2 separate regions of the Homo sapiens genome follow, and region 2 is linked to region 1. A link means that fine-mapping ties the variant in region 1 to the expression of a gene that starts in the linked region. Tissue or cell type: blood mononuclear cells. Region 1 holds a variant in brackets; the other region holds the start of a gene. All regions are shown on one strand. Distances are from middle to middle.

Evidence for each region. PIP is the estimated chance that this variant, and not a neighbour inherited with it, causes the effect.
Region 2: ADAMTS17 starts here. The variant in region 1 is fine-mapped to the expression of ADAMTS17 in blood mononuclear cells (TOPMed, PIP 0.93).

What each region holds. Positions count from the first base shown.
Region 1 is chr15:99,929,881-99,932,560 of GRCh38, reverse strand. No RefSeq gene overlaps it. Among named protein-coding and RNA genes, the nearest start is that of LYSMD4, 200 kb to the right of the region's middle. The variant A/G (reference allele first, on the strand shown) is at 1,178.
Region 2 is chr15:100,340,678-100,343,357 of GRCh38, reverse strand. It overlaps ADAMTS17 (ADAM metallopeptidase with thrombospondin type 1 motif 17), which reads left to right and starts at 1,383. Exons shown (of 22, transcript NM_139057.4): 1 at 1,383-1,537; 2 at 1,949-2,319. The coding sequence starts at 1,459. RefSeq lists an enhancer at 2,531-2,680.

The DNA of each region.
Region 1 (2,680 bases):
AATTTTTCTGTCCCTACTCTGGTGTCCACGGACTGTCACACCACCACTTCTGCTTTCAGGCAGAAAACCACCTCCCAGCAGGCTCCCACTGAGGACTCTCGCCTGACCTGGAAACCCCTGCTCCTCTCTCTGCTGCCATCTGCCTCAGGGAGAGTTGGGCTGGAGGAGGGAGTGGAGCAGTGGGGACAGGAAGTCCCTCGCTAGACTCAGCAAAACAGGGACCCTTGGCTTGGGTGGGCAGCTTTCTGCAGCCCCCTTTGTTTCCACCTGGAAACGTTGATTTCCCCAGTTGGACACTCAGAATCTCAAATGACATCAAGGCCACAAACAAATCTCTCCTCCTCTGCAGGGCATTCTTTTCACATGCCCTCAGAGCATGACTGAGCTTGGAGGAATTCTGAGCCATGGTTGGTTTGCTGCAAATGGGCATCGTCAGGTGTTCCTGTAGCCAGGGAAACAGGAAATGAGGACAGAGGAGAGGGGATGCCAGTAGAGCTTTGAGTCCTCGGGTTCCAAGAGGGGAGAAGATGGATGTGGCATGCGTGTCTAGGGCCCAGGCTGAAGGCCCTGAACGGCAGAGGAGACCGGGGCTACGGGGTCACGTCATGGAGCAGAAGGCCTGTGCACCAGAACGCACCATGAGGCCACCATCTGGGGGTCCACAGGGGCAGCTGAACCTCATCATGCCTAGGGTTTCTGGTCACCTCCTACCTATGCAGAGCTGTGGACAATAAGCTGGACCAGCAGTTACCACCCGAAAAGCAAGAGGAGAGCTCACCACAGTCATGCCTTGCCAGCCCCTCTTCCTGACCCCAACATTAGAACAGCAAGTGCCAAGAAGCAGGAGAGTCATGTGCAACTGCCCCTACCCCACTCTCCATCTATGGAAACACTAGGTTTAGCCTGCACTAGGTGGAGAAGGGAAGAGAGATTGACGTTTCAAAATGAGCTATCAGGGGACTTCTATTTACAGCAATATGAGAAACTAGGTAACCTGAAAGGCAACACCCACCGCAATATGCTCAGAATTGCTTGGTGCAATAGAACAGACTCTAAATGCAGAGTTCAACAGAAAGTAAAGGCCAAAAGATGAACTGGGAACCAACAATTAGGTATACAACTTCATGATCTCCCCACCCACCAGGGCTGGCATCCTCTCACTAACTCAGGGGCTTGG[A/G]TTGTTTTGTTTTGCTTTTCGAGACAGAGTCTCACTCTGCCACCCAGGTTGGAGTGCAGTGGCACAATCTCAGCTCACTGCAACCTCCACCTCCCGGGTTCAAGTGATTCTCATGCTTCAGCCTCCCGAGTAGCTGGGATTACAGATGTGCATCACTATGCCTGGCTAGTTTTTATATTTATTTTTAGTAGAAATGGGGTTTTGCCATGTTGACCAGGCTGGTCTTGAACTCCTGGCCTCATGTGATCCACCCAACTTGGCCTCCCAAAGTGCCAGGATTACAGGCGTGTGCCACCATCCCTGGCCTAGGGACTTGGGTTTTAATGCTGTGAGGAATTGGAGAGGAAGCCTTGGACCTGCCCCACAACACTCATAAATGAGGGGTCCTTCAAGGGCAGGATGCACTCTCAGTAATCATCATCTAGAGAAAGTTCCCCCACTGGCAGTTATGTCAGGGATATTAGACCTGGCCTGGGCTCTGAGTAGGGAAAATGATTCTCCTATCAATTTGTCATCACAGGCCCATACTCATGTGATGGGATTAGGCTGTATATGACATGCATGGGCCAGAAAATCCCCAGGTCAAAACATTGGTATGCAAAGCAGTCCTGGGCTGGTGATAACGCCAAGCACCTGGCTGAAGCAAACCCAAAAGCACTCTGGAGGCACCCACTCTCATGTAAGGTACAGAAGATTCCAATAGATGAAGTCCCCATTAAGACCAGCTCACAATCCCAAATTACAAAACACTGGCAACTCCAAGTCAATAAACTTCAGGGATGGAAAGCCAGTAGAATGATCAAAACAGAGCCTACAAGATAAATTGGCTTAAAATTACTAAAGACCTAAAATGAGAAATAAAAACAGAAAAAAAGAATCAAGATACATGAAAAAATAGGTAAATTTTAAAAAGTATTTCCAGAAAGTAAAATTTTAAAAATATAATTACTGAAATAATAGAAATACCTCTGCAGATGGGTTACCGCTGATTCTCAAAGTTTATCACACCTGAGGATCCCCTGGAGGGCTTCTTAAACACAGACTGCAGGGCCACCTCCAGAGTTTCTGGGGCAGGGCCTGAGAATTTGCATTTATAAGAAGTACCCAGGTGAAGCTGCACTGATGATCTGGGGACAACGGGTTAGCTGATTAACTCTGGCCAAAGACAAAATTCTGACTGACCAAAAGTAGTTGACAAGTTAGTGAATAAAGTTGGGTTATTTTAATAGGTCTTCTATCCAGGGGAAAGGAGTTTCAATCAGCACACAGTTGAAAGCAGTAACTGAGAAAAATAAAACCATGTCCACGTGCATGTTTCAAATACACTGTCAGGATTTTCAATAGTCTAAGTAGTCTGTATCTTGTCCAAGGTTACAAGAGACAAAGAACATTATATATTGAGAAGAGATTCAATACAGCAAGAATAAGTAGTTATAAACATTTAGCACTTAACAGAATATGCAAAGCAGAAAGGGAGCGAATTGGAGGGAAAAGTAGTTCTAC
Region 2 (2,680 bases), 410 kb before region 1:
GAAGGTGGCCAGTGTTATAGATTCCTTCAGATGATATGTAATCCTGTGATGAATTTAGATTCCGAGGCTTCAAGCAGCATCCAGCGGGGAACTATAACCTTTCTGCTATGATAAAATGGAAAAGAGCAGGACAGGGAAGGGACGGGAAACCTGAGATTGGTTATGGTTACACTTAATTGTTTTTTTTGTTTTGTTTGGTTTTGTTTTGTTTTTTTGAGATGGAGTCTTGCTCTGTTGCCCAGGCTGGAGTGCAGTGGCACAATCTCGGCTCACTGCAACCTCCACCCCCCGGGTTCAAGCGATTCTTCTGCCTTAGCCTCCCGAGTAGCTGGGACTACAGGTGTGCGCCATCACGCCTGGCTAATTTTTGTATTTTTAGTAGAGACAGGGTTTCACCATATTGGCCAGGCTAGTCTGGAACCCCTGACTTCGTGACCCGCCCGCCTTGGCCTCCCAAAGTGCTGGGATTACAGGCATGAGCCTCTACAAGATGCTATTCAGCAAGCTAATGGAGTCACCTTCCCTGCAGACCTCAGTTATATTGTGGCAGGAAAGGATCAACTCATTCTGTTTCTGGGAGACTCACGTTCAAGGCTAGGCTTTGGGACTTTGTGCCTCCGTTTCCTAACCTGTAACACTGAGTCCTGCTTCCCTCGGGGCGGGGGGATCCTGCTGTTAATAAGAAGCACCAAGCCAGAAATCAGGATCACAAATTCTAGCCTCTGCTCCAACAGGAACTCTCTGGGTAACTTCAGCGTTTTTCCTTAAGCTCTCTCTCTTCCTCAGTTTTTCAGTCTGTAAGAGGGTGTGAGCATGCGTGTTGCACTGGCTCCTGTGGGATTAAAGAAGACAGGAGGTGTGAAGAGTTTGGATAAACGCCGCGGATATAGCCTTCAGGTGCTAACTCAGGTGTGCGGGAAAGTGGACTGGGAGTCTTTGCGGCCACAAACAACTAAAACCTAACTTCAGATGTAAAGATTATATGCAGTTTTGGATGAAACCGCTTGGCCGGGGCGATTTCCGCCCTACCTTCCCGGGAAACTGGGCAGCAGGCTGAGAGAGTTCCAAAATGAGGACAAGCTCTGAAGACCAGCCCCGCATCCTCCAGCTCTTCCAGGGTCCCACGGCTCCGGTCGGCTCCCGCGCGCCACCTGGTGCCGTGTCCCCGCCACTGCCCAGAAACCACGTGTAAGAAAGCGCTGACAACCTAACTACGCACTGTGGTTTCGACCCATCCCAACCAGTAGGGAAGGAGGAGGCGGGGCGGAGGAAAGCGAGGGCCCAATCCCCTCCCGCCTTCCGAGGGGAAGGCGGGGCTTGGGGTTTACCACGTTGGGTTTGTCCGCAGCGCTAATTACTTTTTCCAAAGGCTGGAGGGCTTCACTCCGGCTGGCGCCGCCGCCTAGCGCGCTCCTGCTTCGCCGCCACGGTCCGGGGGGGCTGCCGGTCCCGGGTACCATGTGTGACGGCGCCCTGCTGCCTCCGCTCGTCCTGCCCGTGCTGCTGCTGCTGGTTTGGGGACTGGACCCGGGCACAGGTAGCGCCCCCTCCCACAGCCCTCTTCACCCCGCGTCCTGCGGCTACCTTCCCTCTGCGTTCTCGCGGCGTCCTGGCGGCCCGGGGGCGGCGGCGGGACCGCTGACGGCGCCCGAGCGGAGGAGGCGCGGGCCGCGGCCGGAGTACGGGAATCGGGTGGCTCCGTGGCAGGCGCGCCGCCGCCGGGTCTCCGCTCGCCGATGCGCGGCGCCGTTCCGGGAGGTGCTCGCGCGGCTGCGCCGGAGACCCTCCCCGGGTGGCGCGGGCCAGCGTGGAGGTGCCGGGCGAGGGAAGGGAAGGCAGCGCCGGCTCCGGGTCGCGCTGTCCCCGCGCTGGCGCGGCTGGCGGCCAGCGGGAGGGCGGGCGTCCGGGCGGGCCCCGCCGCGCTGACGCGTCTCCTCTCTCCCCGCAGCTGTCGGCGACGCGGCGGCCGACGTGGAGGTGGTGCTCCCGTGGCGGGTGCGCCCCGACGACGTGCACCTGCCGCCGCTGCCCGCAGCCCCCGGGCCCCGACGGCGGCGACGCCCCCGCACGCCCCCAGCCGCCCCGCGCGCCCGGCCCGGAGAGCGCGCCCTGCTGCTGCACCTGCCGGCCTTCGGGCGCGACCTGTACCTTCAGCTGCGCCGCGACCTGCGCTTCCTGTCCCGAGGCTTCGAGGTGGAGGAGGCGGGCGCGGCCCGGCGCCGCGGCCGCCCCGCCGAGCTGTGCTTCTACTCGGGCCGTGTGCTCGGCCACCCCGGCTCCCTCGTCTCGCTCAGCGCCTGCGGCGCCGCCGGCGGCCTGGTACTGCCCGCGCCACCTCCGGGTCGGCCCGTCCGGTCTGTTGCGACGCAGAGTGGTCGCCGTGGAGGGTGGGGGTGGGGCGCCTCTGCTGGAAGTCCAGCCTCCAGGGGAACCGGAGGGAACCCCCTGCCTTTCCACCTCTCCCCATCCCCCACCCCGGCCTTCGGTACCCTCTATAGGCAAAGGGGGTGGGAGGGGCAGCATCCCAGTCCAGCGCCTCTGCAGCCCGTGGAACCCGCGCGGAGCTGGGGTTGCGTGGGGTATACGCCGCCCGCTCTAGGGAGCGCAGATCTGGCAGGGATGAAACTGTCAGGGCCCTGGACAGAGGCGCCTTGGCCCCAATGTAGAGAACACTGCATCT